Linked DNA regions of Homo sapiens. The protein of the gene in region 1 interacts with the protein of each later gene in a pairwise test. Each region holds a gene or a part of one and is shown in the gene's direction. Other genes may lie near its edges. The genes, in order: PCSK5, VGLL3, DBF4B and PLSCR4.

Evidence for each region.
Region 2: the proteins of PCSK5 (region 1) and VGLL3 interact in binary tests that used the Homo sapiens proteins (3 or more experiments, as listed by UniProt).
Region 3: the proteins of PCSK5 (region 1) and DBF4B interact in binary tests that used the Homo sapiens proteins (3 or more experiments, as listed by UniProt).
Region 4: the proteins of PCSK5 (region 1) and PLSCR4 interact in binary tests that used the Homo sapiens proteins (3 or more experiments, as listed by UniProt).

What each region holds. Positions count from the first base shown.
Region 1 is NC_000009.12:76,327,659-76,334,684, forward strand, and holds part of PCSK5 (proprotein convertase subtilisin/kexin type 5 isoform 3 precursor), read left to right. Parts: exon of another isoform or gene 1-350; coding exon 351-581; exon of another isoform or gene 582-712; intron 713-3,261; exon of another isoform or gene 3,262-3,895; intron 3,896-4,774; coding exon 4,775-4,952; intron 4,953-7,026. UniProt on the Homo sapiens protein: Serine endoprotease that processes various proproteins by cleavage at paired basic amino acids, recognizing the RXXX[KR]R consensus motif. Likely functions in the constitutive and regulated secretory pathways.
Region 2 is NC_000003.12:86,974,142-86,981,167, reverse strand, and holds part of VGLL3 (transcription cofactor vestigial-like protein 3), read left to right. Parts: intron 1-2,365; coding exon 2,366-2,642; intron 2,643-7,026. UniProt on the Homo sapiens protein: May act as a specific coactivator for the mammalian TEFs.
Region 3 is NC_000017.11:44,704,098-44,711,667, forward strand, and holds the start of DBF4B (protein DBF4 homolog B), read left to right. Parts: upstream 1-4,567; 5' UTR 4,568-4,723; coding exon 4,724-4,742; intron 4,743-4,754; exon of another isoform or gene 4,755-4,841; intron 4,842-5,202; exon of another isoform or gene 5,203-5,206; coding exon 5,207-5,269; intron 5,270-7,570. UniProt on the Homo sapiens protein: Regulatory subunit for CDC7 which activates its kinase activity thereby playing a central role in DNA replication and cell proliferation. Required for progression of S and M phases.
Region 4 is NC_000003.12:146,199,089-146,206,114, reverse strand, and holds part of PLSCR4 (phospholipid scramblase 4), read left to right. Parts: intron 1-5,037; coding exon 5,038-5,080; intron 5,081-6,075; coding exon 6,076-6,302; intron 6,303-7,026. UniProt on the Homo sapiens protein: Catalyzes metal ion-induced ATP-independent rapid bidirectional and non-specific movement of phospholipids (lipid scrambling or lipid flip-flop) between the inner and outer leaflet of the plasma membrane and participates in the redistribution of phospholipids between membrane leaflets.

The sequences.
Region 1 (7,026 bases):
ACGGTGGAAAATTCGATGCCATTACAGAATGGCTTGTTATTATTTTGTTGCAGTTTGGGTAATTATAGTGAGCCTTACTAATATTTCTGAGATGGCTATTGCAGGAAAGCCCTCTCTGGATACAACAGAGAAAATAAAATAATAATTTTCTCTCATTTTGCAAAAGAATGGTCCACCCCAGAGCTCAAGGGCTGTACTCAACTCATGGCCCCACACCATTGGCCCAGAGCTCTGGAAATCTCCGGAAGAAATGTGAAAGGAATGTGAAGACCCTTTCCCAGGGGAAGCCATTCCCACGAGGGCCACCCTGGCTCTCGCTCACTCTGTCTGCTGCCCCTCCACGCCCACAGATTGCCACAAGTCCTGCTTGACCTGCTCATCATCTGGGACCTGCACCACCTGTCAGAAAGGCCTGATCATGAACCCTCGTGGGAGCTGCATGGCCAACGAGAAGTGCTCACCCTCCGAGTACTGGGATGAGGATGCTCCCGGGTGCAAGCCCTGCCATGTTAAGTGCTTCCACTGCATGGGGCCGGCGGAGGACCAGTGTCAAACATGCCCCATGAACAGCCTTCTTCTCAGTGAGTTACTTCTCCGAGGACAGCTTTGTGTTTCCATCTCTCTGGGAAACTGCCTTGCACACTGCCTTGTCCAGTAGATACTGGCTTCTTTCTTTTTGATTTTTTGCTTTGTGTTTGGGAAATGTTCAAACCTGCAGAAAAGATGCAAGAGTAAGAACTGTACAAAGAACAGCGCACGGATGTGCTTCATCCAGTTCGCAAATTGCTCATCTTCTACACCATTTGCTTTATCATTTGTTCGTGGGCTCTCTCCCCCCTTCTCACTCATTCTCTCTCTCTCTATCGCTCTCTTCCTCTCACTCTCTCAATGTATACATGTACATCATTCCCAATACATATTTTTCGAAGCCATTTGAAGGCATACATCATGGCCCCTTTCCCATAAATATTTTAGTGCCTATTTCCTCAGATTAGTGATATTTTCTTACATAACCGCAGGATAGTTATCAACTCTAATAAATTGTACATTCATACAATACTTTAATATACTATCCATATTACAATTTTCTCAGTGCCCCTTTAGGATTCAGGCTAGAGTCAGTTGTTTCATTTAGCTTCCATGTCCCTTTTTTGTTTGTTTGTTTGTTGGGAAGGAGTCTCACTCAGTTGCTCAGAGTGGAGTGCAGTGGTATGATCTCGGCTCACTGCAACCTCTGACTCCTGGGTTCAAGCAATTGTCATGCCTCAGTCTTCTGAGTAGCTGGGATTACAGGTGGGCACCATCGCTCCCGGCTAATTTTTTTTTTTTTTTGTATTTTTGGTAGAGACGGGGTTTCACCATGTTGGCCAGGCTGGTCTTGAACTCCTGGCCTCAAGCAGTCTGCCCTCCTCAGCCTCCCAAAGTGCTGGGATTACAGGTGTGAGCCACTGCGCCCGGCCACTTTTTTGTTTGTTTGTTTTTTGTTTTAAGAGACAAGTTGGCCAGGCGCAGTACCCAGGCTGTTGGAGTGCAGTGGCACGATCATGGTTCACTGCAGCCTTGAACTCCTGGGCTCAAGAGATCCTCCTGCCTCAGCCTCCCAAGTAGATGGGATGGGATTACAGGCATGAACCACCATGCCTGGCCCTTCCATGTCATGTCCAGCCATTTTTTTTTCTTTTTAGAGACAAGGGTCTCACTGTGTTCCCCAGGCTGGTCTTGAATTCCTGGGCTCTAGCTATTCTCCTGCCTCAGTCTCCCAAAGTGCTGGGATTACAGGCATGAACCACTATGCCAGGCCCTTCCATGTCCCTTTAGCCTCCTTTAATATGAAATGTTTCCACACACTTTCTTTTTCTTTCACAATATCAATGCTTTAGAAAAATACAGTCTTGGCTGGGCACGGTGGCTCACACCTGTAATCCCAGCACTTTGGGAGGCTGAGGTGGGCAGATCATGAGGTCAGGAGTTCAAGACCAGCCTGACCAACATGATGAAATCCCATCTCTACTAAAAATACAAAAATTAGCCAGGTGTGGTGGTGGGCACCTGTAGTCCCAGCTACTCGGGAGGCTGAGGCAGGGGAATCGCTTGAACCCGGGAGACAGAGGTTGCAGTGATCCGAGATCGCACCACTACACTCCAGCCTAGGCAACAGAGCAAGACTCTATCTCAGAAAAAAAAGAAAAGAAAGGAAAAATACAGTCTTCATTTTTCCTTTCGGGTGACTGTGAAGTTGCCCGTGATCAGTTGCAGAGTGTGCATGCTTGGCCAGCATACTTCAGAAGTGATGTTGTATCCTCCGAGAGTCACACCTGGAGGAACGTGATCTCCACATGCCTTTCCTCGGTGATATTAATGTTGATCACCTGGCCAAGATGTTCAGTTTCCCTACTGCATAATTACTATTTATTCCCTTGTAACTAATAAGTAGCCTGTGGGGTTACACTTTAAGAACATGTAGATATTCAGCTCCTCATCAAAATTTCCCCTCCATTTAGCATGGTTGATTAAGAAATCCCTCTTGAGCAAAAAGTGGCACAGGTCAAGGTTGGCCACGGTCCCACAGATCAGAGTTGAAGGTTATTGCTAATATGAAACAATGTCCTCAGGTTCCCAGGGATACTGTGACTAGGCTTAAAACAAGCATGGGAGAAAGAAAATGAAACAAAACTTAACTAAAAAAGAAGTCATAGGAGACAGAAGAGAGAGATGAATATGGTGAAGACCAGGAAGTATGAGCACTTTTCTCCCCCACCAGGAGAGTAGACCTGAGAAGCGTGAAACTCCAAATAGACATGTGTGGTAGGCTGGGCGCAGTGGCTCATGCCTGTAATCCCAGCACTTTGGGAGGTCGAGGCAGGAGGATTGCTTGAGCCCAGGAGTTCAAGGCCAGTCTAGGCAACATAGTGAGACTTCATCTCTACAAAAAATGGAAAAAAATTAAAATTTTAAATTTAAAAATTTTAAACATTAAAAAAAAATGTTTTAAAGACATGCATGGCAAGCTTTTCCTCTTCATATTGAGCGAGGACACCATCCCCCTGCTAAGACACAGGGAGACCTATTCTCAATACCATTCCTGATCACTTCACAATAGAAAACACTCAAAGAGACCAGTCTTCTCTATCCATCTACCTTAGCTCCTGGTCCACAAATCTCTGTGACTCTCCTTCCCAGCAGTTGCTGCTTCATAAAAGCATTCCCTCCAGCCACGTCTCCCAGGTAATCCCACCCCGTCGGACCTTCTTTTCTACTTACGTCCAATCTAGAGTGCCACCAGTAATCATCTCAGATGCCTTCATATAGAGAAGACAGCTTGCCTCCACAAAGTGGTCTTCCCCTCATCCGAGGCTGCAGATTAGACTAGAATTGAGGCTTCAGTGCTGGTATAGGACACAGAGCTGTAGTCCCCCTGGGAAATGGGTGCAGATTTGCTCAGCCTGGTATCCTCACATTCTCTCTACCCTGTCCCACACCACCACACCACCAGGGTCAGGCTATTTATAAATTAGATACTTTTTTTGGACATCGTGGTAGACTGAATAATGGCCCCCCTGAAGATGACACATCCTGATCCCCAGATCCTGTAAATGTATTACTCTACTTGGTAAAGGACTTTGGGGCAGTGATTTAGTTGAGGATCTCGGCATAGAGAGATTATCCTGCATTATCCACGTAGACCCAATGCCATCACAAGGGTCTGATAAGAGAGATGCCGGGGGTGGGCCAGGCATGGTGGCTCACGCCTGTAATCCCAGCACTTTGGGAGGCCGAGGTGGGCGGATCACAAGGTCAGGAGATCGAGACCATCCTGGCTAAAACGGTGAAACCCCGTCTCTACTAAAAATACAAAAAATTAGCTGGGTGTGGTGGCAGGTGCCTGTAGTCCCAGCTACTCGGGAGGCTTAGGCAGGAGAATGGTGTGAACCCGGAAGGTGGAGCTTGCAGTGAGCCAAGATTGTGCCACTGCACTCCAGCCTGGGCGACAGAGTGAGACTCCATCTCAAAAAAAAAAAAAAAGAGAGATGCCAGGGGATCAGAGTCAGTAATAGAAGGTGATGTGATCAGAAGCAGAGGGACAGAGAGAAGCTACTGCACTGCTGCCTTTGAAGACAGAGGAAGGGGCCATGAGCCAAGGCATGCAGGTGGACTCTAGCAAGTGGAAAAGGAAAGGAAACAGATTCCCTCCTAGAGCCTCTAAAAGGAACAGAGCCCTGTGGATCTATTTTGGACTTCTGACCTCCAGAACAGTAAGATAATAAATTGTTGTTTCAAGGCCCCAAGTTGGGGATACTTCATAGGAACAGCAATAAGAGACTAATACGGCGGTGTTTTTCCTTCAGGAAGCTGGGGCTTCCCCCTAGTTAACCAGATACATGAGCTGGACAATGAGCCATTGCCAACATCCACAGGCGCCGGACTGTAGTTTCTGTTCTACCCACCACAGCTAATCCACTGAGAAATTTGGGTGGGACACAGATGAGATTTGGATCTCTGATGAGATGAGATGGGATCACTGATGAGATTTGGGTGGGACACAGAGCCAAACCATATCACTGACTTCTGTTTTCCTTGTATTCCTCATGGCCTTAGGGCAATTCTGTTTCTTGGACACTAATCTTATTTCCCAAACATATCCATCAGCTCACAGGATCATCCCATTCCTCCTGCAGCCCTCTCCTCCCTCCCGCCATGGTACACAAGAGGGAAAATACAGGGGAGACATGTGTCATGCTCGATGTCCAAATAGACATTTTTTCTCCCATGACAGACACAACCTGTGTGAAGGACTGCCCAGAGGGCTATTATGCCGATGAGGACAGCAACCGGTGTGCCCACTGCCACAGCTCTTGCAGGACATGTGAAGGGAGACACAGCAGGCAGTGCCACTCCTGCCGACCGGGCTGGTTCCAGCTAGGAAAAGAGTGCCTGCTCCAGTGCAGGGAAGGGTAAGTGCTCAATACATTTTCCCCCATGTAATTTCACAGCCACAGCAGATATCAACCCATTTTACAAATGAGGAAACTAAGATTCAGAACACTTATAAAACCAGGTTGAAGTCTCAGTGCTAGTAAGGAGCAAAGATGAACCAATTCACAGTAACAGAAGAGAAACAGGAGAGGCAGAGTGACCGAGTGAGTTAACACAAAGGGTCAGATTGTCAAGCCGGACTCACCTGAGCAATTGATCTTCCTCAACGACAGTCCTTACTGAAAATTCAAAGCATATTGGCAGCTGGGCACTGTGGCTCATGCCTGTAATCCCAACTACGTGGGAGGTTGAGGCTGGAGGATCACTTAAGGCAGGAGTTTGAACCAGTATGGGCAACATCTTGAGACCCCATCTGTAAAATATTAAAATAAGATTAGCTGGGCATGGTGCCATCAGGCTATAGTCCCAGCTTCTATAGAAGCTGAGGCAGGGGATGATCACTTGAACCCAGGAGTTGGAGGCTGCAGTAAGCTATGATTGCACCACTGCACTCCAGCCTCAGTGACAGAGCAAGACCTTGTTTCTAAAAATTAAAACAATTTGGCAAAGGGTCTCAGCAATCACAAGGCAGAAGCAAAGCATCCTTTCCTCAGAGAAGCCCAAGATCATTAATGGAGGTTCTTTTTCTTCACCTTCAGGACTTGTTCTGATTCAGATTTAAAATTCAGGGTCTCACATTCTCCCAACCTGCTTATGTGAGGAGAGCAGTGAGTGTGGAACATTGATTTACAAAGGAAATAGTTCCATTAACATCTCCATTTATTCCCCATTAATTCCCCAACCTGTCATGTCACCTATAAATCCACAAATTACAGGTTTTGTTATCATAAACAACGTAGACACACGCACTTGATGTATCCTTCTAAAAGCATTTCATGGATAAGGACTCTATTATTTTTCTGCTAGGAAGAACTGTTAGTGTTATCAGAAGGTCTGATTGCCAGCATATCCTTTTTCTCCCCCAGGCATTCCCAGTAAAGAGTAAAAGATTGATGATAGGCCTGTTGCTGACTCTTTCTACCCAATCAATAACCTAGAGCACTGGGAGTTTCCAGACCCAAATCAAGGGCTGTAACCTTAGACCTTCCTCAAATGCTTTCACCCAAATTGACACATCTCTTCGGTCCTATAGCAGTTACTGCTTGTTTCATTCATTTTAGTGCTATATGCTGCCTTGCATTTTGATTTATCTCATTCATTCACTTATTTATTTAACACATTTCATGATGAGTACTTTGTATGTATAAATAAGATGAGTAAAAGAAAGACTGACTGTGTTTGTTTTCACGCGGCTGATAAAGACATACCCAAAGACTGGGCAATTTACAAACTAAAGAGGTTTAATTCGACTTACAGTTCCATGTGGATGGGGAGGCCTCACAATCATGGCAGAAGGCAAGTAGGAGCAAGTCACATCTTATGTGGATAGCGGCAGGCAAAGAGAGAGAATGAGAGCCAGGCGAAACGGGTTTCTCCTTATCAAACCGTCAGATCTCGTAAGACTTATTCACAACAGCAAGAACAGCATGGGGGAAACCGCCCCTACAATCCAACCATCTCCCACAGGGTCCCTCCCACAGCACATGGGAATTATGGGAGTACAATTCAAGATGAGATTTGGGTGAGACACAGAACCAAACCATATCACTGACTTTAAGAGTTTATTCTTATTTTTATATGCCTCTTCCCAAGAAAATTATAAACTCATGGAAGAAAAACACCTCTTACGTCTTACATTTGCTTCTACAACACTCAGCACAGAGCCACACATTGGCAGCTCTTGAAAAACACCAGCCAGGCTGGGCAGGGTGGCTCACGCCTATAATCCCAGCACTTTGGGAGGCCGAGGTGGGTGGGAGGTGAGGTTAGGAGTTTGAGACCAGCCTGGCCAACAGGGTGAAACCCCATCTCTACTAAAAATACAAAAACTAGCCAGGCATGGTGGCACGTGCCTGTCATCCCAGCTACTTGGGAGGCTGAGGGAGGAGAATTGCTTGAACCCAGGAGGCCAAGGTTGCAGTGAGCCAAGAT
Region 2 (7,026 bases), on another chromosome or scaffold:
GACGTTTGTATCAGGATTCATGGCCTTCAAATCCTTTACATATATATAACTTCAATTTTATTTCATCTAAGAATTAATTGCTGTCAATTAAGGATAAAATAAAACTTTGACTTTATTTGGATTGTTAATGTAGCCAGGCTCTTCTATTTAAAGAATGAATGTTACAATTAAACAAATAAAGCATTTATATGCAAAGCCCCACTCTCACAAACTGATGCTGAGCTGGACATTAACAGAAAAAAGAAATTAGTTTCACGGATAAGAATGAACACTTGTGGACAATGATGCCACCATGTAGATAGGTTTTAGGGTTTTTTTTTTTCATAGAAAAACAGAGCTGCTTTCTAATGTGCCCGAATATTCAGCAGAGAGTGTGTGCATATGGTTAAAACAATACATGTTTTAGGTAAATACACATGCACCCGAAGAAGCAGCACTGTGATTTGACTAATAAATCATAATATTCATTTAATTTTTTAATGGAATTTAAAACTAGGAATAGTTTTAGAGGTTATTTAGTTCGATTCCCTCATTTTACACATACCATATGTTTCTATGGTGTTTATACTATTGAAGTTAAATATAAACATGTTCAAATCTGTGCAGAGGTAGATTATGAGAAATAAAAGCAATCATCTATTCATCAGCAAGGCACATTCACTTACAAAGTATGAATTATCTATTCATCAACAAATCATAACCATACTGATACGAATTTTAAATAAAAGCAAAACACATATTTATAAATAACCATCCTGAAACGATAACTAGAAGTTCATAGTATTTCTGAATATTTCAGTACTCACCTTATACAAGAACAACATATTCACTGCTAGGGGAAAGGGACCAATTTATTGAATGGTGCATTTATAATTTGAAGCTATAGATATTGAAGCTAGTAATTACATTAGAAATATAGAGTCTGGGGTATGTATTTTGCTAACATTTGAAAAATTACTGGGTATTCTGGAGTGATTTATCTATTTCTACTCACATTCATTTTCCAGCATGCGTTTTTTTCAAAGTAAAAAAAAAAAAAAGGTATGATCAAGGATCAGGTTTTGCAGACATAAAGATGACAGAGAAAGCTCATTTCGTCACTAGAATAATACATTTCATATCTTTAGCATTATCTCCTTATATGTAATTCGCATTGAAGTTGATAATAAATGGAATATGTGCTCAGTGAAAAATGTTTGGAAATACTGAAAAGCAGAAATAAGAAAATGACAATTAACTATAAACGTATTACACAGAAAAACAATACAAAATACATTTTTGTAATTTTTTTACTCTAGATATCCCTCCCTGCCTTTCCCCACCAAATGTATGCACACGCATATCTATATGCTAGATATCCCTCCCTGCCATTCCTCAGAACATATATATGCACACACATGTCTATACCTGTATGTTTTTCTTATGCATTCTGACTCTGCAGCTTACATGATTTGTGACTTTTGGCAAGTAACTTAATTTTTCTGTGCTTTAGCTTTTTAATCTTTACAATATGGATAGTATTAATAGCCATGTTATAGAATTGTAAAGATTAAGTGAGGTGATAAATATAAAGTTTTAGAAACATGTCTGAAATAATGTATATTATTATTAGAATTATATTTTTAAACATTTTAAATTAACAAATCTTTCTCATTTTTAATTGAAAGATTAACCCACTACTAGTATTTTGTAATATTTTCACTAAGCCATAATGAAATCTTTTCCCCTCATGATAATGGTGGTAAACGGAACATCTAAAAAATATGTTCCATGCAAAATGCATCTTCACACAGACTTATTTTGCCATTTTAGTTTGATTTTTGAAGACATGAGTTCAGCACATCTGCCAAATCCTTTTATAAGATGCTACATTCCTGTTTTTATTTTAGTTTATTTTATTTATGAAAAGTTCTTTTCTTCTCCACTCCACCCCCAGACAGTCATTCCTCTCTGTCCTAAACCATAACACTGCTGTACATTGCATTTTTAAAAATAAACCAAAACTGGGAAGAAAAACTTTTTAAAAAAGTAATTCTCCTGTTGGCCTAGCTAGATGAAAAAACAAAAAGCAAAACAAAAACAAAAGCAAAAACAAAATCTTGTATTGAAAATATACTATTTGATAATGGGCTTTTATGTTCGTTTGCCAAATGTAGAATCACAGAGTTTTTGTTGTATTTTTTTTAGTGTGGGAAGGAGGCAACTGGTTTGGGGAGGAAAAAGATGGAGTAAAACAGATGAAGAAGAATCAGTTTGCAAACATATGTTAATATTTAGATTCTTTTTTTAAAAAAGTGAAAACTTAACTAGTGAATGCTTTTCTACAAACTGTCTTTGATACTGTGTTTTGTTTATTCCATCCCAGAAGAAGTTAGCGGTATTCAGCAAGATGCAGGACTCTCTGGAAGTCACCCTTCCCAGCAAACAAGAGGAGGAGGATGAGGAGGAGGAGGAGGAGGAGAAAGACCAGCCTGCCGAGATGGAGTACCTTAACTCTCGCTGTGTCCTTTTCACTTATTTCCAGGGAGACATTGGGTCAGTAGTGGATGAACACTTCTCAAGAGCTTTGGGCCAAGCCATCACCCTCCATCCAGAATCTGCCATTTCAAAAAGCAAGATGGGGCTAACCCCCCTATGGCGAGGTAAGAATTCAAAAGCAGATGTTCTCCAGGGCACTGTCTTTGTTTCGCAACTGCCTGTACCAGGTTCCAGCTGGAGACTTGCCCCTGAGGATGGATATCCACTTGCTTTTTAATATTTAAGGACAGTGAGGAATTTCTTTCAGACAAACAGCTGGATCGGTTTTGTCACATGTGGAATGTAGGGTTGGAAAGGATGCAGTCACACCCCTTAAATTCCTCATGGAAAGTAGTGATACAACCGGCTTGAGTTTATAGTGGCTGCACTGAGCTGCGAAGTACCATTCCTAAAGCCCCAGTGGCCCAATTTGGATCTCTAAATAATAGGCGTGTCTAAATCAGCTTTTAAAAAATTAGCTCTTGCTCATTCCAATAGGTGCTATGTGGTGACATACCAGAGACCTGAGTCTGACCCAGGAATACAGACATTGAAAGCTGTCTGTGTTCTTTGAATAGGCTTCTTTATCCTGATTTGTTATTGTATTAACTCTTTATAGTATACACTCTAGGCATTTTGGCAGCATCCACATGGCTTAAACTAGTGTTTTTACCTTGATAAAGAAAGAGCAGCACATTGGACTCCTTTATTTCTCTCTGTATCGAGCTCACAGAGATGTGTTTGAAACTGATTTCTGACTCATAGAAAATTATTGGTGACATCTAAATCAGGGTAATTACAGGGTTAGATAAAAACATAATACGTCATTCCAATGACAGCTTCAGAGAAATTTGCTACAGTGGTGATTTCTTCCAAATTCACCTGGTTATAGGAATGATCTAGTAAAATGGTTCTCGAGGTGTGATTTTCCTGACCAGGAACATCAGTGCCACATGGGAGCTTGTTAGAAGTGCGAATTCTTGGGCTCCACCCCAGACCTGCAGAATCAGAAGCTCTGGGGTGGGGCAATCTGTGTTTTAACCAGCCCTCCCAGTGACTCCAGTGCAGAGTTTGATAATCATTGATCTAGTCCTGTTAAGGACAGTTTGCAGGACCCCCTTATCTCGAATCTATTGAACTAGAATCTTCATAGGAAGGTGTGGGAATCACACTTTAACAAGGGCTCTGGGTAATTCCTATCATGAGGAAAAGCTGGCTACCTGTGGGCAGGGCCAGGTGAGCAGTGAGCAGTGACTAGTGGTACCTTCTGGGCAGCACAGGAATGGTTCTGCTCTACTGTAGAAGTCCTGGCCACATGGAATTGCTGGGCCTGATCTTTTCTTACCTACTTGACCTTTCTTTTCTTCTCTCCCTCCCTCCCTTCTTACCCTCTCTCCTTCCTTCCCTCCCTGTTTGCCTCTTCTCCTCTCCTCTCCTTCTTTTTTTTCTTTGCTTCTTTACTTTTCTTTTTAGTAAATATAAACAACACTAAACAGTGACTATAAAGGGGAAGGTGGAATACAAATAAAATATCCAAGGCCTTGATGGAAATGAACTGAAAAACATACTAGTTATTTGATTAGTAAATAATATGGGCTTACTATGAGAACTGAGACTTAGTCCTTGGAAGCCTATGATGCTTATGTAATAGACTAATGTCCTATTTAACAGGACGTGATGAATAATTTTAATAATTTGTAGAGGAAGAAAATAGGAAAACATTAGTGAGTTAGATGGCTTTAATAAATAATTTGATATATCAATAATGAATCCTATTAAGATAATCAGTGCCAGGAGAGTAATAAATATAATGTCTACTTCTTTTAGCACATGGGCATATGCAACCTTGCTATCATTTAAACTGAAAAATCAGAATTAATGTCCCAAATTATTTCTTGGTGTGAGAGTGATTGTCTATAGAATCATATTCAAAATAATTTTTAGTGGGATGTTGTGAATGTGCAGAAACCCTACAACACATCAGCATTTTCTCTGTAATTTGCAAAACACATTACACAAGTTCCTTTAGCAGATGTTAAACTGTAGCATAGAAAGGGTTAATAAAGGCAATGTTTTCATAACTACTACTAAAGTTTTCTTGGAACTATCTTAAATTTGATCTTCAAATATGTCTCCTGTTTTATTCATTGACATATTCAGCAAACATTTATTAACCTCCTGCTATGTGTTAGGCAATGTGCTAAGTCCTGAGACAGCCCAAGGCTCTACCCTCATGGAGCTTTTAGGGTAGAAACAGGAAACAAACAATTGTTACAAAATATGTTATTTTACATAAGGTGATAACAAAAGCCCTGTGTGGCACAGTTATGTTTGAGCAGATAGCTGAAGGAAATAAGAATACTCATCATGTGGTTACCTAGGGGAAAGTAATTCTACACAGAAGGGACAGATAGTGCAAAGGCCCTGAAGATGGACTGAGCTTAGAATATTCAATGAGAAGCAAAGATGCTGGTGTGAGGTGAATGAAATGCAAAGTAATAGGTGGAGAACAGATGCTTTAGAACTTTTTTTTTTTGAGATGGAGTTTCGCTCTTGTCACCCAGGCTGGAGTGCAGTGGTGCGATCTCGGCTCACTGCAACCTCCGCCTCCCCAGTTCCAGCGATTCTCCTGCCTCAGCCTCCTGAGTAGCTGGGATTACAGGGACCCTCCACCATGCCCAGCTAATTTTTGTATTTTTTTGGTAGAGACGGGGTTTCACCATGTTGGCCAGGCTGGTCTTGAACTCCTGACCTCAGGTGATCTGCCCGCCTCGGCCTCCCAAAGTGCTCGGAGCCACACTTACAGATGTGAGCCACCGCGCCCCACTGTTTTAGAGCTTTTTACATCAGTTTATCAGCATATACCAGGAGCACACAGCATGCGCTTCAATTTTCATCTCCTATTATCCCACTAAGTCTACAAATACCATATCTTCTTATGGTGCCTCATTTTTTCTGATGCTCACAACAATGTGTTTCTATGTGGAAAATCTGAAATAGATATGCATTGAATGATTAAGTGACTGAATTAAATGAACCAATTTCATACCATGTATCCGGAATTAGAAAACAAGAGTCTTTAATAGAAAATTTCTTGGTAATAAGTTATATGAACTCTTTGGGTACAGTTTTTTTTAATTTATAAAATAAGGGGGTTAAATTAAATAATTGGTAAAAATATTTTCTTCTGTAAAGTTCTGTAATTTCAAAGGTATTATTTGCTTTTCTTAGATCTTTGTCATAATTGTCTTAAGTTGTGAATTAGACAGATTTAGATAAATATATAAAACTTGTGTAGGATTTATAGGAAAGCCACAAACGATAATTAAAAATATAGAAAATGTCTTAAAGAAGAGGTTCAATAAAATGAGACTCACATTTTTATTCTCATAAAATGAGAGAGTTGGTGACAATTTAATATTAATTGGCAAAGCTACACAGGATTGGAAAATACAGTCTTTGGAGTCCATTTGTTTTAGATTCATGTTCCAGCCTTTACCTTCTGGTTGCAATGTGATCTTGGATTACTAAATTGAAATCTCTTACATCAACTTCCTCAACTGTAATATGTGTTTATTGATACCCATCTCATAGAGTTATTGTAAAGATTTTTAAATAATGTATATGAATAATTTAGCATAGAGCTTGACTCAAGGTGCTAAATGAAAGCCAGATGCCTTTTCTCTCTTCCTTAAGTAAGTTTCCACTCATTTGACACATAGAAAACAAACCCTGAGCCTTTATCCAGGAACATTGTTTTCTGGAACTTTGTGTTTTTGGTACAAAACACACAGTCTTAGATAATAGTAGATACTAAAGGCTAATGATAATGTTAGTGGCCATGGCAATGATGCTTAGAAAGGAACTGCTGACCGAGTATTAAAGGGTCTAGTTTACAGCATAAAGTTATTACAGTGCCACAGAAGTGCTACCATGCTACAAACAAATTTAATAACTGAATCGTGTTTGACTAAGAATATATTTACACGGTAAATCTTTAGACAAAGAATAGTGTGTCAGCTAATAATGAAAGAATGGTTATACTTTGAATGTATATCTCCTTCATGAAGCTAGGTAAGTTTTTTTAGGTGTTTTTCAGCTGTAAGGCAAACAATGATAGGAAGTATATGTATTTTACTTGGCACAATGTCTTATCAGTTACCTCTAATCCTGCTATATATTCTAACAGGGTTGAAAGAATTTCATTTCTTTCCATTAAGAAAACCTAACTAGCTGGGCGTGGTGGCTCATGCCTGTAATCTCAGCACTTTGGGAGGCCGCGGCCGGGCAGTTCACCTGAGGTCAGGAGTTCGAGACCAGCCTAGGCAACATTGTGAAACCCCATCTCTACTAAAAACACAAAAAATTAGCCAGGCAAGGTGACAGCCACCTGTAATCTCAGCTACTTAGGAGACTGAGACAGGAGAATCGCTTGAACCCGGGAGGTGGAGGTTGCAGTGAGTCGAGATTATGCCATTGTACTCCAGCCTGTGTGACAGAGTGAGACTC
Region 3 (7,570 bases), on another chromosome or scaffold:
TTCATTATTTTTTATGGCTGTATAGTATCCCATGGTGTATATGTACCACATTTACTTTATCCAATCCACCATTCACGGGGTACCTAGGTTGTTTCTATGTCTTTGCTACTGTGAATAGTGTGGTAATAAACATAGTGCAGGTGTCCTTTTGGTAGAATGGTTTATTTTCCTTTGGGTATATACCAAGTAATGGGATTGCTGGGTCACATGATAGTTCTATTTTTAGTTCTTTGAGAAATCACACTGCTTTCCACAGGGGCTGAACTAATTTACATTCTCACCAACAGTATATAAGCATTACCTTTTCTCCATAGACTGGCCAACATTTATTATCTTTTGGCTTTTTAATAGTAGCCATTCTGACTGGTATGAGATGGTATCTCATTGTGGTTTTAATTTACATTTCTCTGATGATCAATGATATTAAGCATTTTTTCATGTTTGTTGCCACTTGTATGTCTTTTTTTAAGATATGTCTGCTCATGTTTTTGCCTTTTTTTTTTTTTTTTTTTTTGAGACAAGGTCTTGGTCTGTCGTTCAGGCTGGAGTGCAGTGGCATGATCTTGGCTCACTGCAGACTTGACCTTCTGGCCCAGGTGATCCTCCTACCTCAGCCTCCCAAGTAGCTGGGGCTGCAGGCATATGCCACCAGGCCTAGCTAATTTAAAAAAATTTTTATATAGATGGGCCTCCCTATTTTGCCCAGGCTGACCTTGAACTCCTGAGCTCAAGTAAAGCCTCCTACCTTGGCCTCCCAAAGTGTTGAGATTACAGGCATGAGCCCCTGCATCTGGCCTTTGCCCACTTTTTAATTAGGTTTTTTTGTTGTCGTTGATTTATTTAAGTTCCTTATAGATTCTGGATATTAGTCCTTTGTCAGATGCATAGTTTGCAAATATGTTCTCCCATTCTGTAGGTTGTTTACTTCATTGATAGTTTCTTTTGCTGTGCTTTGGAAGCTCTTTAGTTTAATTAGGTGCCAGTTGTCAATTTTTTTTTTTTTTGTCGTAATTGCTTTTGAGGACTCAGGCTGATATCTAGACAGTATTTCCTAGGTTTTGTTCCAGAATTTTTAGTTTGATGTCTTACATTTAAGTCTTTCATCCACCTTGAGTTAATTTTTGTATATGGTAAGAGGTAGGGGTCCAGTTTCATTCTTCTGCATATGGTTAACCAGTTTTCCCAGCATCATTTATTGAACAGGGAGTCCTTTCCCCATTACTCATAGGTGTACAGCTTTATTTTTGGGTTCTTTATTCTGTTCCATTGGTCTATGTGTCTATTTTTATGCCACTACCATGCTGTTTTGGTTACTGTAGCCTTGTTTAGTTTGAAGTCAGGTAATGTAATGCCTCTGGCTTTGTTCTTTTAGCTTAGGATTGCTTTGGCGATTCAGGCTCTTTTTTTCATTCTATATGCATTTTAGAATAGTTTTTTTTTCTGATTCTGTGAAAAATTACATTGGTAATTTGATAGGAATAGCACTGAATCTGTAGATTGTTTTGGGCAGTATGGACATTCTAATGATATTGACTCTTCCAATCCATGATCATGGAATGTTTTTCTATTCGTTTGTGTCTTTTATTATTTCTTTCAGCAGCAGTGTTTTATAGTTCTTGTAGAGATCTTTCACCTCCTTGGTGAGATGTATTCCTAGGGATTGTTTTGTGTGTGTGGCTCTTTTTTTTTTAATGAGACAGAGTCTCGTTCTGTTGCCCAGGCTGGAGTGCAGTGGGGTGATCTCGTCTTACTGCAAGCTCTGCCTCCCGGGTTCATGCCATTCTCCTGCCTCAGCCTCCCAAGTAACTGGGACTACAGGCACCAGCCACCACACCTGGCTAATTTTTTGTATTTTTAGTAGAGACGGGGTTTCACCATGTTAGCCAGGATGGTCTCGATCTCCTGACCTCGTGATCTGCCCGCCTCGGCCTCCCAAAGTACTGGGATTACAGGTGTGAGCCACCATGCCCGGCTGGCGCTTTTTTTTTTTTTTTTTTTGACAGAGTCTCGTCACCCAGGCTGGAATGCAGTGGTGTGAGCTTGGCTCACTGCAATCTTCGCCTCCTGGGCTCAAGTGATCCTTGTGCCTCAGCCACCTGAATAGCTGGGATTACAGTTGCACACCATCACTCCAGGCTAATTTTTGTATTTTTAGTGGAGATGGGGTTTCACCATGTTGGCCAGGCTGGTCTCGAACTCCTGGCCTCAAGTGATCCACCCTCCTCAGCCTCCCAAAGTGCTGGGATTACAGGTGTGAGCCAACATGCCCAGCCTGTGTGTGTGGCTGTTGTACATGAGATCACATTCTTGATTTGGCTCTCAGCTTGAACGTTATTGGTGTATAGAAATGCTACTGATTTTTGTGTGTTGACTTTTTTTTAATCCTAAAATTTTATTAAAGTAATTTATTGGGTCTAGGAGCCTTTTGGTGGAGTCCTCATGGTTTTCTAGCTATAGAATCATATCATCAGTAAGCAGAGATAATTTGATTTTCTCTTTACCTATTTGGATGCCTTTTGTTTCTTTTTCTTGCTGATTGCTCTGGCTAGGATTCCCTAAATACATTTATATTTTAAAGTATTTTCATTTTTTGGAGTTGCATAGTGTTGCACAGTATGACTACACCATAATTTATTTAACCTACTGCCCGTTGTTAATCAATATTTTCGTTGCTTTTGATCTTTTGGTATTGCAAACAATGCTGAGGCAGATACCTTTATTATACAAATTCTGTCACACATGTGAAAAAAGAACATGCTGAACCATCTTGCCTCTTAAAGTTTCTGCTTGGAAGTGATGTCACTTTTTTCTTTTTTCATGAGCCAAAGCAAGTCATATGGCCAAGGCTTCGTTCGTTCATCAGGGCTGAGATGTATAAGCTTCCTCAGGGAGGAGTCCCACTGGAAGAGATACCAAGTTTATGTACTGTATATACCTCTACCAGTGTTTAAAAAATATCACCCTGGGCCAGGCGCGGTGGCTCACACCTGTAATCTCAGCACTTTGGGAGGCCGAGGCGGATGAATCACCTGAGGTCAGGAGTTCGAGACCAGCCTGGCCAACCTGGTGAAACCCCGACTCTACTAAAATACAAAAATTAGCCGGGCATGGTGGCAGGCACCTGTAATCCCAGCTACTCGGGAGGCTGAGGCAGGAGAATGGCCTGAACCCGGGAGGCAAAGGTTGCAGTGAGCCAAGATTGCGCCACTGCACTCCAGCCTGGGCGACAGAGCGAGACTCCCTCTCAATAAAAAAATAAATAAATATAAAAACTATCACTCTGGTTGCTGAATGGAGAATGGATTATACTGGGGAGAGATAGGAAGCTACTCGGGAGTAGAAGTGAAGAATTGACCGCAGTACTTTAGGCAAGAAATGATAGCAGCTTGAACTAGGGTGGTGGTGGTCTGATTCCAGATGTACTTTGGAGGCAGAGTTAGTAGGATTTTTTTCTTGGAGTGGGGATGGGCACAAGGGAAAGTACTGAAAGACAACTTCTAGGTTTTTGGTTTGAGCAACTGGGTGAATGATTGTGACATTTGAGTAAACAGTAACATTTTACTGAGAGGGGAAGACCTGGGGGGAGAACAGGTGGTTTTTTGACAGGGGCAGCGAAACAAATGTTCTGTTTTGAATGTGTTCAGCCTGAGGTGCCTATTAGACATCCAAATTGAAATAGCCAGTAGGCACTTGAATATGTGAGTCTGGAGATCAGACAGGTCAGAGCTACAGAAAATCTGAAGGTGTGGCAGAGCTGAATTGTAAAGCTGTGGAGCTGGATGAGATCTCCTAGGGAGATAAGGGAGAGGGATAAGGGCTAAAGCGTTGGCATACTCCAAAATATATAGGTGAACAGTGGCTTTGGATCCAGCAAAGGGGACTGAGGAGGAACCATTGAGATAGGGAAAAAAACGGTAGAGTGCTGAGTCATGGAAGCAAAAAGAAGAAAGTATTTCAAAGAAGGAATAGTCCATCTATAAGTTGGATATGATAAGGATAGTATTTCAGACTGTGGAAATCACAGTTGACCTGGATAAGTACAGTTTTTGTGGGGAGGTCCCCAGCTCTCCACTGAATGATCTCTTATTAGATCAAATTTGATCTCTAATTAGCAGTCTAATTAGATGGGTTGAAGAAAAGATGGGAAGTGAGGGATAAAGATACGTCTTTTGAGAAGTTTTGTTGGGCAGGTAATAATTGAAGAACGGGAGGGGGACAAAAATGTGAAGATGAAATGATGTGTAAGTGAAATCTTTATGTAAACTGCAAATGCTCTGCAAGTGTTAGGCTTATTTTGTTATTTAGTATTCAAACTTCTAGGAATTTCAATGCAGCTCAGTGTGAAGAATCACTAAAAAGCGACCACTAGTCCTCAACTTGAGGGCCATTAAGGGGCAAAGCCGTCTAGCCAGTGAAGAGCCAAGAAATGAAGAGACGGTTTGAGAAGACGTAGGCGGTGGGGGAACGGAAAGAGGAATCGCGAAACTAATATTGTCCTTCCAAGGACACCGTAGGGCGGATCTCGCAGCTACGGCGTTCTTTTAGGGGTGGAGCCGGCAGGAAATTTAAACTGAAGCCGCGGCCGAAAACGCCAAGAGATTGATGCTGTAGCTGCCCTGAGATAACCAGGACTGTGGAATCGGGAAGAGCTCATGGAGCTCGCGAATGTAATACGGAGGCCTCTGAGGAAGGAGTACGGAGGCCGAGAAGGAGCCGGCATTTGATGAGCGAACCGGGAAAGGGTACGGATGCCGGGAAGGGGAGAAAGAAAGGCGGAAGGGGTCGTTAATAGCTGAGGCGAGGTGCGGAGTCGTGGAGGGGGCTTAGGAAGTGACCAGCGGGTAGGTGCCGAAGCTGAGGAGGGTATAGGGGCCGGGAAGGAGCCACAGGAGTTGAGGGGACCGAGGAATGAAGGTGGCAGAGGAACGTAGGGGACAACAGCCTGGAGGGATGTATGGAGATTGAGATGGACAGGAGGTGGCCAAGAGGTCACGGCCGTTGACTGAACGGAGTCTGAAAGGAGGCGGAGGGCATGAGGGGCAAGAGCCTGGCGGGAGTCGCGGGATGTAGGTCGGAATGGAGTTGAGTCTTGCTGTTCCCAGGAGTCGCGTTTCTGTGCGCGTTTTGGGAGACAGTAGTGGGCGGGAGGCATGGAAGTTCCAAGGGTTGGTGAAGATGGTTGAGTTGCTGTTATGTCCTTTCTCAGGAGACGATTGCCTCGAGCTGGAGAGTTCCATGGCTGAGAGTAGGCTCCGGGCCCCGGACCTAGGTGGGTAACAGGACAGAACTAGGGACGTGAGGTGAAAATTGCCCCAGGGTCTCTTGGAGAAGACCGAAAAATGTTCCCCCTGTTGGAGTTTTCGATCACTCAGTGTTTTTATGTACTTATTTATTCATTTTATTTATTGGGATGGGGTCTTGCTGTGTTGGCCAAGCTGGTCTCAAACTCCTGGCCTCAAGCAGTTCTCCTGCCTAGGCCTCCCAAAATGCTGGGATTACAGGTGTGAGCCACTTCACCAGGCCCACTTAGTGGTTTTATGTGTGTGTGTGTATGGACGCAGCATCATAGACCGTTTTGGGATTCATGATAAAGGTCAAGTAAGAGTCATATTATGAACAAGATTAACAGACAGATGTGGAGTCAGGATAGAGTGACTTATTAAATATATAAATTAATACATTCATAGTTGTTTACAATAAAATCCTTAAGTTAAACACTGCTACCTAATTAGGTAAGTATTTTAGCACATGGCACTTCCCTCCGTACTGCCCCTTTAGTTAATATCATCTAGTTGGCCGGGCGCGGCTGCTCACGCCTGTAATCCCAGCACTTTGGGAGGCCAAGGCGGGCGGATCACGAGGTCAGGAGATTGAGACCATCCTGGCTAACACAGTGAAACCCCATCTCTACTAAAAATACAAAAAATTAGGCGGGCGTGGTGAGGCGTGCCTGTAGTCCCAGCTACTCAGGAGGCTGAGGCAGGAAAATTGATTGAACCCAGGAGGCGGAGGTTGCAGCGAGCCGAGATTGCGCCACTGCACTCCAACCTGGGCGACCGAGCGAGACTCCGTCTCAAAAAAAAGAAAAAAAAAATACCGTCTACTTTTACTTCTGGATTGTTAACAGATATGCCATCGGCTTGTTGCCTTTTAAACAGTAATCCACTTCATTTACTGAGTTATTCATTCTTCCCATCTCTTGTTGGTTTTTTTTCCCCCTTCTGTTTCTCTGGAGAACTTCAAGAGTGTTTTCAAAAGGAGGCTTTGTGTGATAAACTAAGAATATATTTATTTCAGCCTTGTAGTAAAATTTAAGTCAATTTTTTTTCCTTCAACACATTGAAAAATTACAGTATTTTCTCCTTGTTTTCTTCAGCATTTCTTTTTTATTCTTGCTGCTTTGTAAGTGACCTCCTTTTCTCATTAGATGTTTTAGATTATGTGAACCTATGGATTATATTGATGAAAGAAAAAAATGTTTTATTTTATTTATTTTGAGGTCTTGCACCCAGGCTGGAGTGCAGTGGAGCAATCATGGCTCACTGCAGGTTTGGCCTCACCGGGATCAAGTGATCCTCCCACCTCAGACTCCCAGGTAGCTGGGACTGCAGGCACTCAACACCACGCCCAGCTAATTTTTTTTTGTTGTTTGTTTTGTAGAGACGAGGTTTTGCCATGTTGCCCAGGCCGGTCTTCAACTCCTGGGCTCAAGCGATCACCCTCCTCAGCTTCCCAAAGTGTTGGGATTACAGGAGTGAGCCACTGCACCCAGCCCAATATTTTAGATTATACATTTTTATATTTGTTCTTAAAATTTACTATAAGATGATAATGTGTGGATTTTAGAGGGTTTTTATTTTCGTTTTTATTCCAGTTTGATTTTTTTTTTTTTTTTTTTTTTTTTTTGAGACAGAGTCTCGCTTTGTCGCCCAGGCTGGAGTGCAGTGGCACCATCTCGGCTCACTGCAACCTCTGCCTCCAGAATTCAAGCAATTCTTTTGCCTCAGTCTCCTGAGTAGCTGGGATTACAGGAGCACGCCACCATGCCCGGCTAATTTTTGTATTTTCACTAGAGACAGGGTTCCACCATGTTGGTCAGGCTAGTCTTGAACTCCCGACCTCATGATCCACCTGCTTCAGCCTCCCAAAATACTGGGATTATAGGCGTGAGCCACCACACCTGGCCTCCAGATTGATTCTTTAAATTTTTTTAAATTATTATTTTATTTTAGAGACAAGAACTTGCTCTGTTACCCAGGCTAGAGTACAGTGGCACAATCATAGCTCACTGCAGCCTCAAAGCCCTGGGTGCAAGCAATTCTCCTGCCTCAGTCTCCCAATCTCCTGCCTCAGTCTCCCAAGTAGCTATGTCTTCAGGTGCATGTCTCCACACCTGGCTTCCTGTTTGATTCTTGACATAGCTTAAAAGGCAGGCCATGTGTGGTGGCTCACACTTGTAATCCCAGCACTTTGGGAGGCCAAGGCAGGCGGATCACCTGAGATCAGGAGTTCAAGACCAGCCTGGGCAACGTGGTGAAACCCTGTCTCTACTAAAAATACAAAAAACAGA
Region 4 (7,026 bases), on another chromosome or scaffold:
CCACCACCCATCATTTTCATTAGCTACTCTTGTCACCCCCAAAAACAAACAATATAAATAAAAATAATGGACCCTACAAAGAATATTGCTTCAGGCCAAGTTCCAGAGACCCCCTTCATACAACACAATAACTCCCTAATTAACATCTATGTAGATATTCTGCTGCCACCAGGACATGCAGATCAAAAACTGGGGTAATATGGGAAGTTTGTGCACAAATAGTTTTGTTTAAAAACCCATGTCTGAAACTAAAAAACCTGCTTAATGAAAATAAGATAAAGCTGGCAGAGTAGACGCCTTTTATTTGTGGCGTTGATTCCTGCGGTTTCAGTTACCAATGGTCAACCAGGTTCCAAAAATATTAAATGGAAAATTCTAGAAATAAACCATTCATAAATTTTAAATTTATTCTGAGTAGCATGATGAAATCTTGCACAGTCCTGCTGTGTTCTGCCTGGCACATATATCATTCCTTTGTCCAGTGTATCCACGCTGTAGATGTTATCCATAGTATACAGACCCAGAGTCACATCTTGGTTATCAGATTGACTTACAGTATCACAGTGCTTGCATTGAAGTAACTTATTTTACTTAATTATGTCTCCAAAGCACAAGAGTAGTAATGCTGGGAATTTGGATATGTCAAGGAAAGACCAAAGAGAGGCCATAAGGTCTTCCTTTCCATGTAAAGGTGAAGGTTTTTTACTTAATAATAAAAAAATTCCTATGCTAAGGTTACTAAGATCTATAGTAAAATTAATATGTCCATGAAATTGTAAAGAAGAAAAGAAAAATTTGTGCATAGTATATACAGGATTTGGTACAATCTGTGGTTTCAGGTATCCACTGAGGGCTTGGAAAGTATCCCCTGAGGATAAGAGGGAGACTACTTTATTGGAGATTCCATAGAACCTTCTGAATCTTTTTTGTTGTTGTTTATAGAAAAAGGAAGTGCTGAAATACATTATAAAGAAGAAACTTCCCAATTTAATACTTACCTCCCCAGGTCAACAGCCAAGTATTTCCTCGAGTTCTGTCATTTCTCTTTTCAATTCTGTATATTGACAGGGACCCTGATAATCTTGTGTGCTGAAAACTATTTGTATAATATTATAACATTGGTGTATAGAAGTCAATACAGTTGGATCAGGAAAATTTGGATTTTACAAAAGCCAAAATTTATCCTAAATTATTATTTGGACAAAATTTTGACAAAATGCAAAACTCATTCAGGTGAAGTGCTAGAGTAAACATCTACATTATTTCAGAAGATAATAAAATGTTTGTAGCTTATCAAGTTTAGAAAGTCTCATTTCTATACTTGGTGATAAATACAGAAGTTGTTCTTGGGAATCTAACATCTTCTACAGTCAATTCTCTTTTCAAATTGTATAGCTTTGTTTATTTAAATATTAAAAACTTGTTTCTTAATTTCTTTTATGATTCTGACAGAGGTTAATTTAACGTATTTTATGAGTTTTCCCTTTTAGGAATATTTAGAGTTAAAGAAATAAGTGAAAAAATAAACAAAACACAGGTTTGGACCCAGGCAAACCTGGTTTTTTAATTCTGTCCTACTCTCTAGTAACTCAAAAACTTTGATAAAATTTCTAACCTCTTGCTGCTTGAATTTTATCATCTATAAAATAGTATTATCAATACCTACCTTACCAGATTGTTAGGAGAATTTTTAATGAGATAAGGGTCACAATGTGCCTAATATTTTTGACATAAAGGGCCGTCCCAATGGATGAAAGCTATGTGGCTGTTATTAGCTTAAATACCTTCTTATGTGTGAATGCAAGACATAGAGCCAATCTTTTTCCTCTATCTACCCTAGTCTTTTTGAGATCTCACATGAAGATTACATGAATCTTTATCAAGGTTCCCAAGAATCCTAAAACATCCAAATTAGCACGATTATATTATTTTCAGAGTCTTGGCTTTACCAGTGACTTTACCAATTTGTCAAAGAACTACCCCTTAACAGACACATATTATTGAGTTCCAGGAAGGGACACAATAATATTGAAATTAGGCCAGTTAATAATCCTGTGATGGCCTCTGAGTGTTCAAGTGAAAGAAACAATTGCACATCTCTCACTGTAAATAAGAAAGCTGGAAATGATTTAGCTTAATGAGGAAGGCATGTTGAAAGTTGAGATAGGCCAAAAGCTAGTCTTCTAGCACCAGTTAGCCAAGCTGTGAATGCAAAGGAAAAGTTCTTGAAGGAAATTGAAAGTGATATTACTCCAATGAACATATGAATGGTGAAAAGTAAAAGAGCCTAATTGCTGATATGGAGAAAGTTTTAGTGGTCTAGAAAGAAGATCAAACCAGTCACAACATTTCCTTAAGCCAAAGCATAATTCAGAGCAAAGCCCTATCTCTCCTAAATTCTATGTAGGCTGAGAAAGGTGAGGAAGCTACAGAAAAAAAAAGTTTGAAGCTGGCAGAGGTTGGCTCACAAGGCTTAAGGGGGGAAAAAAGGCACTTTTGTAACATAGAAGTGCAAGGTGAAGCAGCAAGTCCTGATGTAGAAGCTGCAGTAAGTTTTTCAGAAGATCCTAACTATAACAAGATCATTGATGAAGGTGACTCTGCTAAACAACAGATTTTGAATATAGATGCAACAGCCTTCTGTTGGAAGAAGATGCCTTCTAGGACTTTCATAGCTAAAAAGTAGAAGTCAACGCCTGACGTGAAAACTTCAAAGGACAGACTGACTTCCCTGTTAGGGTCTCTTGCAAAACATTACTACTCACTGACAACACATCTGGTCACCCAAGAGCTCTGATGGAGACGTATAAGGAGATTAATGTTGTTTTAATGCCTGCTAACACAACATCCATTCTGCAGCCCATGGGTCAAAGTATAATTTCAATTTACAAGTCTTATTGTTAAAAAAATGAATTTCGTTAGGCTATAGTTGCCATAGATGGTGTCATTTCTCAGACAGATCTGGGCAAAATAAATTGAAAACCATGTGGAAAGGATTCACCATTCTAGATGCCAATAAGGACATTCATGATTCATGGGAAGAGGTCAAAATATCAGCATTAACAGGTGTTTGGGAGAAGCTGATTGCCACTTTTATGATGATTTTGAAGGGTTCAAGATTTCAGTGGAGGAAGTAATTTCAGATATGATGGAAACAGCAAGAGAACTAGAATTTGAAGTGGAACCTGCAGATGTGACTGAATTACTGTAACTCATGATACAACTTTAACAGATGAGCACTTGCTTCTTATGTATAAGCAAAGAAAGTGCTTCCTTGAGATGAAATTTACTCCTGGTGAGAATTCTGTGAACATTGTTGAAATGACAAAGGTTTTAGAATACTACACAAATATAATTGATAAAGCAGTGGCAGTTTTTAGGTGGATTGACTCCAATTTTGAAGGAAGTTCTACTGTGGTAAAGTACTAAAAAGAACATCATGTGCTACAAGGAAATCTTTCATGCAGAGAAGAGTCAGTCAATTGATATGGCAAACTTCATTATCTTTTGTTAAGAAATTGCTGCCGCCAACCTGGGCTTCAGCAATCACCACCCTGACCATTTAGCAATCATTAACATAGAGACAAGACCCTCTACCAGCAAGAGGATTGTGACTAGCTGAAGTCTCAGATGATTGTTAGCAGTTTTTAGCAATAAAGTTTTTTAAAATTAAGATATATACTTCTTTTAGATTAATACTCTTACACACACTGTAGACTACATTATAGTGTAAACATAATTTTAGATTCAATAAGAAAATAAAACATTCATGTCACTCACTTTCTTACAATAATTGCTTTATTGCCTTGGTCTGGAACCAAACTTGTAGTATCTTCAGAGTATGCCTGTAGTTTATATTTTTACTTTTCACTTCTAGATTTTAATACCCTACTTTTCTAAAATGGACTATAAACCATTTTAGTAGTCACTTTTGGTATTTTATGAGGCATATTTATGTCTCCTTATGTCATTGTGTTTTTATGTAAGAAAAAGGTTTTAATTAAGCATAGATTGTGCCCTTTGTACCCTCCTGTAATTAATCACACCATAAAACATTCGTGTTTAGGTACATTATTTTAATTTCATGTATTACTGCATTCATATATTCTTCATTAATTAATGTACTTAACCAATGTTTGGTGAAATATGGCACTTCAGGCAGTGTTCTGGGCTCAGGGATTAGGAATGGTCTAATGGTCTAAATGATGTAAAATTATACAAATATAATCAGTGTGTCCTCAAGAAGGTTTCTTTTCTTCTGCTAGAATGTTCTCACATGTAACAGATAATGTGCCCATCAAACTGCTCATCTTTAGAATGATTCCTAAGATAGAAATTTCTCTAATGGTATATACCCAGCCGTCCTTTTCATGGGTTGCCATCTAACAATGTTTCCTTTCTCTTCCCCTAATCCTGTTCACATGCTTCCTAGTGTAATAGACCCTTCCCTTATTAAAGTGTGCACTTGGGGAAGACCCTGGCCTTTGTAGATCAAGTGAATGCAAGTCAGTTTATAAACCTCTGCTGGAGGTACCTGTAAAATAATATAAAATGGGGACACTCCATGTGAGGTTCACCCTGGCTTGTTTGTTCTCCTTAAGCCACTGAGAGACTTCCCTTTTCTATGGCTGGTCCGTGTTAATCGTTCTGAACTTAACTAAACAACTACAGGCTATGGATGACATGTAGAGAGACCAGTGAGTAGGGACTTATCTAGGAACAATCTATAAGCACAGCTTCTTCTGATGTGATTACTACAGCAAGTAGATGTTTTGTTTTTCTGATATAGCAGACAACTTTTTTAAAGTGGTACTGAAAGAAAGTGTTTTTCTAATATGGACAACTCTGCTAATATCCATCCGATCAGATGCAGATAAGCTAATTTCAGTTGGTAAAATTTTTTTGATTCTATTGACTTTCAAAAATATATTTTGGTATCAATTGATGCATTTTAATATCTATTTCATCAGTTTATTTTACAGTGGTATTTTAGTTCTGTTATTTCTGTCTTCTGATTGCTTTGTTTTATCCCAACAGTTGGACAACATACATGTTCTTCAGCATTTTGAGCCTCTGGAAAGTATGTATAATTTTTGTAGTGCTCAGCAGTATTTTAATCAGATGGAAATTTGCATTATCCAATATCTAGTTCCTTCTTTATATTGATCATGTTTTAGTGGCTCAAAGAAAAAAAAACTGCTCTATTACCCTATCTTCAAGAAAGTAATAAAGTGAATTATTTTGTATAATTTTATCCTTCTATACATCATATAATCATAAGCTCTTAGATTTGAAAAGGGCTTACATTTTATCTGGTCAATAGCCCTACACTTTACCCATTGTTCCTACTCCACATTTACCTTTCAAAGATGAGTAAAAAAAGGAGCCAAGAGACTAAATGAGTTAGCCAGGGACACCACAGTCAGCTAATCACCTCCAGATCAGGAAATAGCATTTAAACCACAGTCAGCTAATCAGTGGCAGAGCTGGAAATAGAATCCAAATCTGCCAAATCGTAGTGCAGTGCCCTCGCTTTGGAAGTAAGAAGAAAAGATCTCAGTCAAAATGATGCCTGTTCTCAGTTCATCCTACAAGAGTACTGACCCTCACTAAACCAGCTGTGCACATTCATTTGGCCACCACATAGGGCCTTTGACTTTTCTTGGTTTGTTCTCTTGTTTGTAATTAGTAATGACCCTACTCCTCCAAGCATGTTTCGTGAACTGATTAATTAATGGTCAAATGTATAATTTTTTTAAATGGTTTTATAATTAAAGTTTTCTGAATTCAGATACTCCAGGAATTGAAACAAAAGGGTTGTTTCAATCTTTTCTTTTATGTAAAATTTTTTTAATGTTTACACTGAACTTCTTAAAAGAAATGTTTTAAATTTTCACAATTGCTTAAATACTTTTAGATAATATGATTTTTGGGGTACTCTAATCAATTCTACATATTTCACCTGAAACTTTAAAAAAGCTATGTTGCTTTAAGCCCTTAAGAAATACTAAACAAGGACTTTCTGAGGCCCATTTTAAATGTTTCTAATATAGACTTACTCATTTTATTTTTTAGTGATGACATGTTTTGAAACTAATAATAGATATGATATTAAAAACAACTCAGACCAGATGGTTTACATTGTAACCGAAGACACAGATGACTTTACCAGGAATGCCTATCGGACACTAAGGCCCTTCGTCCTCCGGGTCACTGATTGTATGGGCCGAGAAATCATGACAATGCAGAGACCCTTCAGATGCACCTGCTGTTGCTTCTGTTGCCCCTCTGCCAGACAAGAGGTCAGAGAATGGAAGTCTGATCCACAGCTTGCTTCTGATCTAACTCTTCATGGCATAGTGTGCTCCTTCCACTACATAGGGAGGATATTCCCTGGCCCTGCCAGCCAGAATGGAAGAAGATAGTGGGGAGGGAGGAAACCAAATTGTCTCGCCTAAGGAAAATCATAGAGGATTTTTTCTTTTTGGTTACTACTTTTTAGTGCTTAAATAAGTGGGTCAAGCACAATTGACATATGTGTAGTCAATAATTATGATTCCATCAGTTGCATCTACTTAATTAGAAATTTACCTACCACATTTATCTAAATGTACGTACCTATCACTAGATAAAGCAATGCTAAAGATAAACATATGCTTTTAGAATTGGAAGGGACTTAAATATGTTTAGAGTACCCATCACAACGCATACCTTGCCACAGATAAAGAGTGGCTCAAAATTACTAAATGGCTGAGGTGTTACATTTGGCTAAGGACAGGGCTGGAACTAGAATACAGATGTGCTGAGTTACAGTGTGGTTACTCATTATCTTGCATTTCTAAGCAAGTTATTTTCTGTAGGGAAAAGAGAAGCGGTTTTGGAGAGAAACCAAACAGAGTCTGAATTCTAGATATGTCACCTACTTAAATCTGTAAAATTTAATTAACCTGTTTGAGCCTTAGTGTTCTTATACATAAACTGGGTAGTATAATACATCATAGGATTACTGAAATACTTAAATGATCT